Homo sapiens: one gene and its partner. The protein of the gene in region 2 interacts with the protein of the main gene of each other region in a biochemical or structural test. Each region holds a gene or a part of one and is shown on either strand. Other genes may lie near its edges.

Region 1 (7,978 bases), on a different chromosome or scaffold from region 2:
TTGAACCTGGGAGGCAGAGGCTGCAGTAAGCCGAGATCGAGCCACTGCACTCCAGCCTGAGCAACAGAGCGAGACTGTCTCAAAAAAAAATTTTTTTTAATCAAAAACATGGTGGATTCCAGACTCAATTTGTTTTAGATATTGGTTAGAGAGAAATATTACTTAAGATTGACAGCATTTGGTTAGTCCCTTCCACTTACTCCCCCTCCTTCAAAAAGAAAGGATAAAGAAATGAAGAGGGGATTTACATATTATTCTCTCTCCTTCATAAATTTCAGAGAGCCAATTTCATAACCTCAGTCCCTCAGCCACATCAGTCAAACACAATCTGTATTTCTGGGTTCCCTCTAAATCTCTTACCTAACCCAGGTTCCCACAAGAACACTGAATCCTATGTGTCTTACTATGGTCATGGGTGCACAGACCACCAGCAGTTATTCTCTGAACACCTACTAACAATTAGTAGCTTCTCCAACAACCAAAGCCTTACTCTTAACATTCTTACCTACATGTACCAATAATGCTAGAAACCCAAAACATCCCAATCTGAAAACATTTTATCCTCCCTACACCCCAGCCCTCACCCTCACCCCAGCCCTGCTTCAGTGTCTGAATATGTATTAATAGCATTGCCATCCACCAAACAAAAAATGTGGAATTCTACGTTTGTCTCCCTCACACCAATCTCAATACACTCCCCCCATCCCTCCATTCCCATAGCCACTATTAGTTACTACTATTAATATACTAGCTACCATTTCATTAGTAACTACCACGTACTAATCACTTTACACATTTTATCTTACTTCATTCTCTCAATAACCCTATGAGGTTATATACTTTTTTCCCATTTCACAAATGAGAAAACTGAAGCTAAGAAAAGGTCATCTGCCCAAGTCGTAAGTAGGAGATGGCAAAGTAGATTTCCAAACCCTACCGTTCCCCCAAACCAAAATGCTTCATTCTGTAATACCTGATATATCATTCCTTTACTACCCATTCCAAATGTTGATTTCTTTCCTAGATAACCGCCAGGATTCTCCTAACTGGTCTCCTTGTCTCCAGCCTTGCCTTCCCTCATCCCTCAAGTGCCCTAAGTGATCTTTCTGGATCAGAAATCTGATCCTTTTATCCTCTTGATATGAAAGCCCTCCAGGAACATCCTTCAGTCCACAATGTCGAGGATACACTCTACAGGATGAATTCCAAGCCCTTTAGTGCAGCTCCACAATCGCTTACCTACAGTCCCGAAATTCAAAAGCTTTGAAATTTTAATTTTTTTCATTGGTTTGCAACAGAACCCACTGTGAATGCTGGGAGGTTATTTATCGTCTATCCCATTAGCGTGACATTCACGTGTTTCAATGTAGAAACATTAACGTGTTTGATAGAGTTAACTCAGACCCTGATAAAAGTCTCACATAACAGACCTTGCCAGAAAAAAGAAAAATCCCAAAATATTCTGAAGTCCTTACACCTGGATCCCAAGAGTTTAAGAGACTGTGAAACCTTTATCTTTTCAGCCCATCAATCCAATCTAATTTCCACCAATCACCCTACACAGTCTTTAGTTCCAGGGATGTAGAAGGGTGTCCTGTGCCCTGAATACCCTCCAACCCAGTGAGGTACTCATTCTTCAAGAAACCTGTTCATGGATTTCCTTTCCTGTGAAATTTCCCTGACCTTTCCTCTATTGTGCCACAACCATTGTACTGAGGACTCACCTCCACTGCTGCAAGTTATATGTTTCTCCTGTTAGACTGTGAATGAAGTCTTCATTGAGTACTTTATTCAATCCTAGCACAGTGCCCCAACACTAGGGGCTCATTAACGGCCAATTAGCTAAAACAAATTCATGCCCAGCTTTCCCTAACTCTCAATTTCCTTCAAAGTTCATTTCTCCTTCATCCCCAAACCTTAGGATTTTCCCTAACCATGCAGTCCACTTTCCGAGTTTCTCTTTCCCCATGTCATCTTACAATTTTCTTCCAGGCGCCTTCTCTGGACCCCTTGCTCTCCAACATATTCTCTCCACCTCCATTTAATCCATAGTCCTCCTCTCTCCTATCTGTGAACACGCCAAGTCCCCTCCCTCCAAAGCAATCCATCTTCACTGCCCTTACCTCTTACCTACTCCCTCAACACCTCGCTGGCCCGGGCCCTTTCAGCCAAAACGCTTCCTCACAACGTGTTTCCCAAATCCCCCTTCTCTCACTGTACGGGTCTGCCAGCTCCAGAACCAGCGCTCGGCCGGGTTCCGCACATCACAAACCCTCCCTCGGAGCCAGTGTCCCCTCCCCCAGCCTCTCGCAGCCGGCACCCCTCCCTTCATGCTCCCCTTATCTCTTGCGGTCCAGCTTCTCTGGAAAGTGTCCCAGGGGCGAGTCTTTCACCTTAGAGACCCCTCGGGATGGCGCCCGTCCGAGCAGCCCCAGGCCCCAGCACCTCCGTCCCCAGCTCCTCTAGGGTTGCGCAAATCCCTTGCGGCCCAGATGCCAGGCAGGGCCTCCGGCTCACCTTGCTGGATGTCGCCGTTGCTGCCCCCCGGGATGGGCACGCTGAGCTGGCGCTCCGGCTCGGGCAGGCAGCGCAGGCAGAAGGAGTGAAGACAGGGCAGCAGCTTGGGCTCCGCCTCACGCCGGCTCTGCAAGCTCTGCTGACACACGGCGCAGGTGTCCAGGAGCGAGGCTGGCGGTCCAGGAGGCGGCCCTGCCGAGGGACCCGGAGCGGGAGCCGAGGCTGGAGCTGGAGCCGGCGTCGATACTGCGCCCCCGGCAACTCCAGTGCCCACTGAGGCCGCAGGAGATGAAGCAGCCTGGGCCGAGCCCGAGGAGGCCGCGGCCACCCCCCCGTCGTCGGGCCCGGCCGCGCCGCCCTCAGCGCCGGCCCTGCCGCCTTCCTCCTCCTCCTCCTCCACCAGCACCGCGGTGAGAGGCGGCTCCGCCTCCTGCGCGGCGGGCCCGGCGGCCCCGGCAGTTACCGGCGCGCTGCCGCTGCCCCCGCCGCCGCTCTCAGCCTCGCCGCCGCCTTTGTTTTCCGCCATGTTTTCCTCTTTGAACCCGCCGGACCGCCCCGCGCCGCCCGCCGCCCGCGTCGCCGCCGCCGCCGCCCCCAGCCCCAGCCGCAGCCGCAGCAAGAGCGGCAGCCGAGAGCTAGCGAGAGAGCGAACCAACGAGAGCGCGCGCGCACGCGGCGCCCCCGCCCTCGCGTCGCGCGTTTGAAGGAGGGCGGTTGCGGCACGCGCACGTACGCACGGACGTCCTCCCGAGGGAGGCGGGAACTCGGTTCGCGGGCGCGGAGCGGTCCCGGACCCTCGAAGCCAGTTCCTTGCGTCAGTGCCGCGGCTCTTTAACCCGAAGGGAGATTTTTTTTTTAAAGCCAGAGGCCGTTGACGCTGGGTAGCCTTTGGCTGGGGTTGGTTATGAACTCCGACACAGCGGTGGTGCATACGGAAGGGTGGTAGCCGGGACGGTTCCGGTCCCTGCGAGCGTGTCCCGGGCGTCTCCGCGGAAGTTTCACCTGCCGCGCCGCTCGATCGCCGGGACCTCCTGGGTCTCTGCTGTGCGTAGACCAGCCGCGTTCCTTTGGGTGGCCGTGGAGCACTAAAGCGGGGCTTATTGTTTGTTTGGTTTTGGTTTTTTTTTTTGTTTTTTTTTTGCTTTTTGTTTTTGAACTGAGGATCTATCAGAAATAGGCTGAAAAGACCGAGTGAGGAAGAAACTCTTTAACAGCTATTTTTGGCATCTTAAGGTGATTCTCAGGAGTTGCTACGTATCAGAATCAACGGAGGAGTTTTTCAAAGCAGAGATGCCAGGGCCAGTCCCCAGACCTGAATCAGGAAGTGAGGGAGAGAGCCGACGGAGGGGGAAAAGTCCCTTCAGCTGATTCTTATGTATGTCAGTTTGGAGAGCCACGGATATAACCAATACTGCGTCCTTCTGAGGTCCCACTTTAAGTGTCCTGGGTTGAGCTGGGTGACAAATGCCCTTACAACAATGGTAGTAGAAGCTTTCAGGCCAAGCGCAGTGGCTCACGCCTGTAATCCCAGCACTTTGGGAGGCCGAGGCGGGCAGATCACTTGAGGTCAGGTCAGGAGTTCGTGGGCAGCCTGGCCAATATGGTGAAACCCCGTCTCTACTAAAAATATAAAAATTAGCCGGGTGTAATGGCGTGCGCCTGTAATCCGAGCTACTCAGGAGGCTGAGGCAGGAGAATGGCTTGAACCCGGCAGGAGGCGGAGGCTGCAGTGAGCCGAGATAGCGCCACTACACTCCAGCCTGGGCGACAGAGCGAAACTCCGTCTCAAAAAAAAAAGAAAAGCTTTCAGAAAGTTGCCTTTTTATTTGAAAAAAAAAAAAAGGTATTTGGAGGATTTTATGTAGTGCAACAACTGTTTTAGTGTTAAGATCATGAAATGCTTTGGTCTCCTGTTAGTGTTCCCAAGAAAGGTGCTGTAAGTCCTTAAACCACGTGAAAACTTTTTTTTTTTTTGAGACCTCCTCGTTCTGTCGCCCTGGCTGGAGTGCAGTGGCGTCATCACATTTCATTGCAGCCTCGACTTCCCAGGCTCAAGCCGTGCTCCTCGCAATTACCTGGGACCGTAGATGCACGCCACCATGACTTAGCTGATCTTTTTTTTCCCTTTGCCTCGAAGAGGCTGGGGTCTCACCATGTTGCCCAGGCTGAAACTCCTGGGCCCGAGCGATTGGCCCGCCTCAGCCGCTGGAAATGCTAGCATTACAGGCATGAGCCACTGCGCCCAGCCTCCTGAAAACTTTTTAAAATTTATTCAAAAATGTTTCCTGACCTCTTTATTGTCATAGTGTTTTAGAGATACACTGGGATTACAAAACAGAGGAGCTCCCTGCATTCAAGGGGTTTACAATCTAATAGAGAAAAAGATTGAGAATAGATACATGCCAGGGAGTGGTAAGTGCTGTGAAGAAAAGAATAAGTGGGGTAAAAGGGGTTAGAGGTGATTGAAGAAGGCCCCTGTTGATCAGATGAAGGAACCTGTCTTGGAGAAGAGCAGGAGAGGAACACATAACAAGTGCAAAGGGCCTGAGGGAAACGGATTCTTGGCTTGTTAGAGGAGGAGTCAGTGTGGCTGGAGTGGCTTGAACAAGGGAGAGAATAGTAGGACATGAGATAAGAGAGTTATTAAGGGAGCCAGGTCATGTACAGAAATGGTCTTCAATTTTTTTTTTAACTTTTGTGCCCTTTGAAAGAATTTTGGAAGGCTGTTTTCTTTCCTCAAACATTGTAAGTTGACTAAATTTTTTCAGAAGTTTAAATAGTTGCAGAGTTTAATTTGTGACATTCTGTAATACTGACATTTAAAAATTATTTTTAATCTAATAGGGAAGTAAACACTAAAGTGGCTTAATACTATCCATTTTTTAAAGTATATTAAAATGTTATATTTTTTAAACATGGAAAAGTATTGGGAATGTTTTAATGATATGGCTGGGAGTCTTCCCCCTTCCCCTAATTATTTCGAGTAGGCATGAATGCATATAACATTGCTAGAATGAGATAAGGTCCTGTATCAACTCCATTTTTCATTGCCACAGTCTTTACTGCATTAAAAACTATATATGTATACATGTATGTATCTACACACTCACATATATGATGGAGTAATTCCCTTAAAACTACCCTTACTTTTTTATGTACCCCTTGGAAAATTTTCCTTCACTGAAGTACCCCAGGAGTACTCATACCCTAGCCTTAGGACCACTGAGTCAGATAGGAAGGCTTGGATGGGTTTTGAGCAAAGACTCAAAGCAGAATTGTGAAAAGAGTCACTGTGGCTGCTTCCTAGAGGAATCACCTGTAAATGGTCAGTGGAATAAGGAAGACCAGTTAAGGGGCTAATAGGGTAATAACTCGGTTGGTTGGATCAGGTTAGAATCTGTAAAGGTGGTGAAAAATATGGAGTATAAATCATAAACACTTCTTCTCAAATTCACTTCAAAAAAATAAGCTAATGAACTGAATTTCTCAACCAAAAGTTTTGCTTCCATGAGTTTTCTTAACCTTTTGATGCCTGCTACATTTGCCTTTATTAAAATCTAGAATAAAAGTGTTGTTTTTGAAAACTATATAATTTGTATAGGATGGAAACAGCCCCCATGAAGTTCACTGTGTGCTCTGAGAAGGCAGTGCCTGGAGTATAACTCATGAAATATTTAGGATCATTGAAACAGACCCAGTTACATCCTTGATTTTCTGTGGGAGCCCAGAAATCTTGCAGGAGAAACTATGAAATAAGTCCACAGATGAGGCTGAGATACGATAATGCACAAACCTGTCTAATAGACTGCATAGCATGGGGTTCATTATGCCCTGGGACAAAATGCTTGGTTTGAATCTGGTTCCATCACCTACTAGCTATGTGATTTAGGGAAACTTACTTAGGTTGCCTCAGTTCCCTCAGTCATGAAAGGGTGTTTGCTACGGGTAGGACCTACCTCAAGGTTGCCTCACAAACAATATTTGTAAAACGTTAATAACAGCACCCAGCACATGGTGAACATGGATGTTAAAGTAGACCCAAAGTTCCCTGAAGGAAACAGAACTGGCAGGAGAAACACATGCCACTGAGAGAAAATTTCAAGAAGAGGAATCATGCTGTGGCCCAAACTGAGCAGCAGGTAGAGGTAGAGGCTGTGTCCAGCCATTTTCCTGACCTAGGCTACTATCCCTTGTTCCTCTGGTTTGAGCATTATCAGAAAAAACCAGTTCTGAAATAAAGGAAAGAGCTCTTAGGAGGTTCATAGCAGTTCTGCTATGAAGAAAACTCCTCTAAGTTGCTGGTAAACAATAGTGGAAGGAGTTTTCCAGTTGTCTAGGAAAGAGAAAGGGCATTGGAGGTGAGTGACCCAGGTAGGTAAGCAATGGTGAGAACACGATGTGTCCATCATCTGGGCACAGGAGGTTGGCAAAAGCAAGGCAGTAGCCCAAGGGTAGCGTGAAGATTTGCAAAGGCTGGTCTGCACCTTCTGGACAGAGCAGCCATGCTGAACAGCAGGAACAGAAGAGTACATGAGAACCGGCAGAAGGATGCTGAGCTGCAGCTGAAATCTGGGATATTTCTGTAAATGTACAATACTTGCACTCACCAATGGGTGAGGCCAGAGGATCTAAAGGTGACATTTTATCTTTTAAAGTTCACTTCTCAACTGGGTGTGGTGCCTTACACCTGTAATACCAGCACTTTGGAGGAAAACAGGAGGATCACTGGAGGCCAGTAGTTCAAGACCAGCCTGGGCGACATAGCAAGACCCCCATCTCTACAAAAAAAATTTATTAATACAAATTTTAAAAATAATGTAAAGTTTAGTTCTCATCATTCCATGGTGTACCAAGTACACTTTGACTTCTAGGTACTCTGTTGTCTGAGTGAGAACTATTAGTACCAAGAAAAGCAGGACAGATAGCAGAGTTCTGAGTCTAATTACTATCTATTGGCTTTTCTGTGTCTCTAAGGCCTTTCAGGGGCACGTTGTAATTCTAGTAATAAACACCACATTTGAACAGCAGTTTACAGTTGACAAAGTGCTTTCACACACATCTCTTAATTTTTGCAACCAGTAAAATATAGCTCAACAATAAATAGACTTCCTTATGTGAATGTACTGTAATGTATTATCTATTCATAGACAATAAGGTTTTCAATTTTTTACTATTATAAACAATACTGTGAAAAGCATTGTGATGCATAATTATTTGCATATCTATAATTATTTCTTCTGAATATTCCTAAAAGAATTGCTGATTCAAAGAATATGCCCATTGTAAAAGTTTTTAATATGTAAATTTAAAGTATTCCATATGGATTATTAAATTGTTTTGATGTATTTTGCTACTATAAATAAAAAAGTGAAATTAACATGCAATTTTTTTCCTTTTTTTTTTTTTTTTCCTAAAGATCCCTATTTCCATGACCAGGCGCTGTGGCTCATGCCTGTAATCC
Region 2 (7,377 bases):
GTATGTATCCCTAAACCACCTGTTGTTTGTAAGTTTATGTTAGTTATTCTTGAGTAAGCGGTTTTCATTCAGCTTGTTCCGTATAGTATATTTGTGCTGATGCTTTTTCACACTAAGTGCTATTCCATTCTGTGAATAAACCAAAATGCATTTATCCATCCTTCAGTTGATAAATATTGCTTTAAAAAAGCAATGAGAAACACACTGCTTTTTTTCATTTAATACATTTTACAGATCACTCCTTATTGGGATGTATATATTTACTACATCCTTAGAAATGCTTTTTTATTCTTTAATAGGTACTATATTTACATGGTTCAAAGTTTAAAATATATAAAATAGTAAATAGTAATAATGTCCTTCTCATCCCCTTGTCTCCCAGCCTCCCCAGCTGGCCCCTGAGACAACTGCTATTTCCACTGTTATGTGTTTGGTTCTGGCGATATGGTCTCTGTGCGATGTGTATCTGCAGGTGAAATTCGTAAGTGTAACATTGCTGGGTCAGATGTTACACTTTTAATGTGTATATTCAAAATCTACATACATATTGCCAAATTACAGGTCATTTAAAAAGAAAATTGAGGCTGGGCATGGTGGCTCACACCTGTAATCCTAGCACTTTGGGAGGTCAAGGTGGGCAGATCACCTGAGGTCAAGAGTTTGAGACCAGCCTGGCTAACATGGTGAAACCCCGTCTCACTAAAAATACAAAAATTAGCTGGGCGCGGTGGTGGGCGCCTGTGGTCCCAGCTATAGGGGAGGCTGAGGCAGGAGAATCGCTGGAACCCAGGAGGCAGAGGCTGCAATGAGCCGAGATCACGCCATTGCACTTCAGTGTGGGCAACAGAGCAAGACTCTGTCTCAAAAAAGAAAAGGGAATTGAACTAAAGACAGTGATGTCGTTCTTTGACAAGTGTGTCAAGGGGGCAGTGGCGGTTATGATTTTTGCTGTTGTTTGATGTAGAATTATCAGAAGCTCCCAGAAATACTGAACTAGCTGCAACTTCATTTTTTTGGACTTTTGGCTCCTTTTTATGTCTCTGTTTCTTTAGATCACATTCAGGCGGCCATTGCCCAACTGGACCTGTTAGGTGCTCTTGAACATAAGGATGACCAGCTTACCCTGACTCCAATGGGAAGAAAGATGGCAGCATTTCCTTTAGAACCCAAATTTGCCAAAGTAAATGATACCCTCTCCTCAGTCCTCTTTCTGTACATTACAGTTAACCGTCCCAAAGTAGTACCATCTACCCAGTGCTTCTAGATTAATCTCACTTTTTCTCTTACATAATTACCAACCCCTAGTTTGCAAATAGCCCTGATTCATGTTCAGTGTGGGATTCAAAGAGATGAAGTTAAGAGCCCCTACCCACAAGAAATTTGGAACTCTGTAGGGAAGGCAGTCACCTGTTTTATTGAATATTAAAGAGTGAAATAACACTAATGTACATCGCCATGGTTTTAGAAATACCTGCCCTTTAACTCCTTAGAAGGGAAACTGCAAAAGCAATGTACAGAAATAGTGCATTCTAAAGCTAGGAGAAAGCTGGGTTTACACAATTTTAAATTTTGCTTTGCAGACCATCCTCATGTCCCCCAAATTCCACTGTACAGAGGAGATCCTGACCATTGTCTCCCTGCTGTCTGTGGACAGCGTCCTCCACAACCCTCCTTCCCGGCGAGAGGAAGTGCAAGGGGTCCGCAAGAAGTTCATATCCAGCGAGGGGGATCACATGACCCTGCTCAATATCTATCGGACCTTCAAAAACCTAGGCGGAAATAAGGTGAGCCTTGTCTTGCACCTGTTCTCCAGCGATAGCTGCTTGTCTCTGCTATGTGCTTCCCTTTTTCTACTGAAGCCGTGCAAAAAGTACGCTTTCCCTTTTTGGCTAAATTATCTAAAGAATCACAAAAAGAAAGCCAGACAGCATTTCAGAAATGCTTCAGTACCGAAGCAGTGTCATTCTGGTCTCTGTTCCGAATGTGTTTAAGTCAACAAGACTTAAGTGACTCCCAACCCATCAAAACTTAATTGGAACTTGATTAAGTAATATGTCTAATAATGATAGTGCGTACCAATGAATGAGTACTTACTCTGTGCCAAGCCCCATGCTAAGCACTTCTTAATGTAAGATCTCATTTATTCAGTAAAGTAATCCTAAGAAATGAGCACTATAATTATTATTTTTTATATTCATGAAACATGTAGTCATGGAAACGAAGCTTCGTGCAGTTGAAAAACTTGCCCAGGGCCAGGCACAGTGTCTCAAGCTTGTAATCCCAGCACTTTGGGAAGCCAGGGCAGGTGGATCACTTGAGCCCAGGACTTCCAGACCAGCCTGGCCAACATGGCAAAACCCCGTCTCTACTAAAAATACAAGAATTAGCCGGGCGTGGTTGTGCATACCTGTAATCCCAGCTACTCGGGAGGCTGAGGCATGAGAATCATTTGAACCTGGGAGGCAGAGGTTGCAGTGAGCCGAGATCGTGCCACTGCACTCCAGCCTAGGTGACAGAGCGAGACTCTATCTATCTCCAAAAAAAGAAAAAAGAAAGAAGTCTTACATAAATTGACTGGGCATTTCTGTTTTGTTTTCTGTGTCTGTTCATATCCTTTGTCCATTTTTCTACTGGGTCGTTGGTCTTTTTCTTAATGACTTGTAGAACTTTTAAAATCAATTCTAGAGATTCTAATCATTTATTGGGTATGATGAGACAAATATCCCAATCTGGGAAACTTCAAGTTTTTCTTTAGTTTAAATTATTAACACTTTTCTTATAGTTCATGTTTTTTGATATAAAGATATTTTCCTACGTTTCTTTTTGGCACCTGAAGTTTTTTCTCTGAATTCAACTGTGTTCTAAAAATGTTGTTATATTTTCTCTATAGAGATGAGAGGATTGTTAGCTGGGCATGGTGGCATGTGCAGATAGTTCAAGCTATCTGGGAGGCTGAGGTGGGAGGATTGGTTTGCAGTGAGCTATGATTGTATCACTGCACTCCAGCCTAGGGAACAGAGCAAGACCCCGTCTCTGTGAACATATAAATGGTGAATGAGTGGATTGTGATATCACTCTTTCTCCTATTCAGGATTGGTGCAAAGAGAATTTTGTCAACAGCAAGAATATGACGCTGGTAGCAGAAGTCAGAGCACAGCTGAGGGACATCTGCTTAAAGGTATCGTCTGGTCCTAGTGTTCTGTGGGTGACAAAGCTGTCACTTTGTTCAAGGTAGAAATTTTGAAGTTGCTTATTGCTAGTGATTATAAAAGGATTTCTCATTGTAGCAAATTTCACAAATAAGAAAAAAGGAAGTTACCCACAATTCCACAATTCAGTAGTTTAGCCTATTTCCTAATAGCCTAGTTTTTATTGTATTTTTTTACATAGTAAATTATATGTATAATTTATATTTGGTTTTATAATCTTTATAAGCATTTTCCAGTGTTAGAATTCTTCATAAGATTTTTTTTAAGTATGAATATCTGCATTATTTCCTTTTAGATTACCAAAGTTGTGTATAGTATTTGACACAATGCAGAAAATAGTGATTTATAATGTAGAAAGTTTAAAAGTCTCCCATAATCCTGCCCCTCCAGAGATAACTACTGTTAACAGTTTGGGGTAGCTCCTTCTAGAATTTGTTTCTGTGTATGTATGTTTTTGTGCATGTCTCTGTGCCTGTGTGTGAGCACACACATAACGGATACGTGCATATGAGGTACATGTTCCACAACTTCCTTTCTTCCACATGGCATATTTCTTTCTTTCTTTCTTTCTTGTTTATTATTTGAGACAGAGTCTTGCTCTGTCACCCAGGCTGGAGTGCAGTGGTACCATCTTGGCTCACCACAGCCTCCGCTCACTGCAACCTCTGCCTCCCGAGTTCAGGTGATTCTCCTGCCTCAGCCTCCCGAGTAGCTGGGATTACAGGCGTGCGTCACCACGCCTGGCTAATTTTTGTATTTTTAGTAGAGACGGGGTTTCACCACGTTGGCCAGACTGGTCTCGAACTCCTGACCTCAGGTGATTTGCCCGCCTCGGCCTCCCGAAGTGCTGGGATTCCAGGTGTGAGCCACTGTGCCTGGCCTCACATGCGTATTTCTCAAATCCTTCCTGTGGCTGGGCTTTCAGTGCTGCATGTGTCTAGCTCATTCATTTTAGTGATTTCATAGCATTTCATTGTATTCAGTGCAGTTTATTTAAGCCTCTAATAATGGTCATTTAGATTCTGTTGTAGTGACCATCCTCCGTATGTGCTGTGGTGCACACAGAATGAATTTCTAGATGGGGGAATTTGGATTTTGTTAGATATTGCCAAAGTGTCCACCGCAAAGTGTTTTTTTTCCTTTCTTTTTTTTTGAGACGGAGTTTTGCTCTTGTTGCCCAGGCTGGAGTGCAGTGGCGCGATCTTGGCTCACCACAACCTCTGCCTCCCGTGTTCAAGCAATTCTCCTGCCTCAGCCTCCCGAGTAGCTGGGACTACAGGCATGACCCACCACACCCGGCTAATATTTTGTATTTTTAGTAGAGACGAGGTTTCACCATGTTAGCCAGGATGGTTTTGGCCTCCCAAAGTGCTGGGATTACAGGCGTGAGCCACCACGCCCGGCCTAATTTTTTGTATTTTTAGTAGAGACGGGGTTTCACTATGTTGGCCAGGCTGGTCTCGAACTCCTGACCTCAGGCGATCCACTGGCCTTGGCCTCCCAAAGTGCTGGGGTTCCAGGTGTGAGCCACTGTGCCCGGCCCACAAAGTTTTATATTAGCTTTTTATTCCCTCTTAGAGTACATGGTGTTTTAAAGAGCTGTCATGGTATATTTAATGCTCGCATGACACTCCACATTTTATGTCAGAGATAGAGGGTAGCGGAAGTGTTCTTTTGCTGTTGATCACTGAGACAGTGTCCGTGTGTTTGCTGCTGTCCTGAGTACTCTGTGGTGAATGTCTTGTGCCCCCTCAGTGCGGACGCTGCTGGGAGACAGTCACAGCCTGTACCCAGGCCTGTGTCTGATGCCAACGGCCTACGGTTGGCACTAGAGCTGTTTCTTCTCATAGTAGCCTATTGTATTCTGTCTTTCACACATTTTTTTAAACTGCTTTTGTATTTGAACAGTTTCCTGCCAGTCTGTCTCTTGGCTTCATAAGTTTTCTCAATTTATCATTGACAGTAGAAACGGTGCTTCTCTATTAGTTGTGAATTTAGGACCCTGTAGTGGCCAGGGATACCTCTCATTATATGTCAGGCACTGGTAAGGTCCTGAGACTTTACAGACATGCCTACTCAGTAACTAAGTAATAATCTAGATGGTGACCTGACGTACATACACTCATGCCAGGAGGCCATCAAATTAAAATAATCACTATCATTCATGAAGTGTTTGTTCAGCACTGTTCTGAGTACTTTTTATGTGGCTGCCTTATTTAAACTCCTCATTTCTTTTTTTTTCTTTTTCAACTCAGACCTTAACCCAAAGGATAAAATCCTCATTTCAACCTATAAGATTGATTCTTTTGTTATTCCCATTTTACAAATGATGAAACTAAGCCTAATCAGGTTAAATAATTTGCCCCAAATCACTCAGCCAGTGAGTGGTAAAGCTGATAGTCTGGAAGGAGAGACCACCAGTTAGCCTCTGGGGCTTCTTGGAGGTGGTGACAACTGAGCTAGATCTTGACAGATAAGGAGATAAAAGAGTATCTTCCAGGCCAGGTGTGGTGGCTGGCTTATGCCTCTAGTCCCAGCACTTTGGGAGGCCCAAGCAGGTGGATTGCTTGAGGCCAAGAGTTCGAAATCAGCCTGACCAACATGGTGAAACCCCATCTCTGCTAAAAATACAAAACTAAGCTGAGCGTGGTGGTGCATGCCTATAACCCCAGCTACTCAGGAGGCTGAGGCACAAAAATCGCTTGAACCCAGGAGGCAGAGGTTGCCAGCGAGCTGGGATTGTGCCACTGCACTCCAGCCTGGGCAACAGAGTGAGACCCTGTCTCTTAAAAAAAAGTATCTTCTTCAGGCATAGATCAGCTGATTGTCAACAACAGAAACCCTAGAGCCATCATAAAGGACAAAATAAAGATTCTTCCAAGGATGGAAAGGTATCTCTGAGAACCGATAGGCAGGAAATAGAGTCACAGGAACCAGAAAAAGCCTGCAGGAGCCAGGCCCGCCACTTTCTCTGGACCTGCTGCTTCTCTTGCTTTGAGTGCCCTCTGCGTGCCTCCTTCCCTTTTCTCACCTTTACCTCCGCATGGAAGTGATTTCTCTGCATGGCCCCTCCACTCAAGAGCCCAGCAGAGATTGACAAGTTTTCCAGTTTCAAACCTAAAAGATGCCTGGAAGAGAAAAGCTGGCCAGCTTAGGTCCAGCGTGTGTGTACCACTGGTTTGTTCATCTGTGCCCAGGGGCGTAGGTTACATGCCCCACTCATCAAGAGCAGTAGAACAAGGACATTGACTGGTGACTGACATTTCCTCTGATGAGACAGGCAGCATTTCTACTAAGAGTAGCAAATGTGAAGGCACAGATAGGAATCATGAAACGGGGCGAGGAAAGAGAAGGCAGCCAGCTATGGGGGACCATGGAGTGTCTAAAGAAGAGTGGTGAGGCCGGGCGCGGTGGCTCACGCCTGTAATCCCAGCACTTTGGGAGGCCAAGGCGGGCAGATCACTTGAGGTCAGGAGTTCAAGACCAGCCTGACCAAAATGGTGAAACCCCGTTTCTACTAAAAATACAAAAATTAGCCAGGCGTGGTGGCAGGCGCCTGTAATCCCAGCTACTTGGGAGGCTAGGGCAGGAGAATAGCTTGAACCTGGGAGGTGGAGGTTGCAATGAGCTGAGATTGCGCCATTGCACTCCAGCCTGGGTGACAGAGGGAGACTCAGCCTCAAAAAAAAAAAAAGAAAGAAAGAAAAAGAGCGGTGAGAGGAAAGACAGGCGAGCAGCTCAGGGTGGCTCCTTCGTGGCTTCACCACGGGAAGTTTGCATTGTTTTGCAAGGAGCAGTAGAGACATTGTTGAAGGTATTTGAGTGGATGAAGAGTGATTCGAGTTGTGCTTTAGGTAGATTAGCTTGGCAGCAGCAGGTGGGTGAATCGGAGTGAGGAGATGGTGAGATGGTCAAAGCGAGAGGGAAGGGCCTTTCCTTTCCGGGCCGTCCTGATGGAATTTAGGTGAGGGGTGGGTCACCCAACCTGCCTGTGGTCTGGTGGCTAATGTGAGCACCTCCCTCCCAGCCCTACCTTCACAGGCGGTAGTTTCCCTGTTTCTGGTCCGTGCTCCTCCAGCTGGGCCTTCTTCCCCTGACCTTGCTGATCCTTGGTGACCACCTCCGAATGTCAGAATCCACATCGTTAGGCTCACAATGTGGGCTGCTT

What was found.
Region 1: of the proteins of DHX33 (region 2) and TRIM33, one has a biochemical effect on the other in vitro, tested with the Homo sapiens proteins (one study listed by BioGRID).

Annotation. Positions count from the first base shown.
Region 1 is NC_000001.11:114,508,034-114,516,011, forward strand, and holds the start of TRIM33 (E3 ubiquitin-protein ligase TRIM33), read right to left. Parts: upstream 3,171-7,978; 5' UTR 3,044-3,170; coding exon 2,518-3,043; intron 1-2,517. UniProt on the Homo sapiens protein: Acts as an E3 ubiquitin-protein ligase. Promotes SMAD4 ubiquitination, nuclear exclusion and degradation via the ubiquitin proteasome pathway. According to PubMed:16751102, does not promote a decrease in the level of endogenous SMAD4.
Region 2 is NC_000017.11:5,444,610-5,451,986, reverse strand, and holds part of DHX33 (ATP-dependent RNA helicase DHX33), read left to right. Parts: intron 1-1,052; coding exon 1,053-1,180; intron 1,181-1,580; coding exon 1,581-1,784; intron 1,785-3,091; coding exon 3,092-3,178; intron 3,179-7,377. UniProt on the Homo sapiens protein: Implicated in nucleolar organization, ribosome biogenesis, protein synthesis and cytoplasmic dsRNA sensing. Stimulates RNA polymerase I transcription of the 47S precursor rRNA.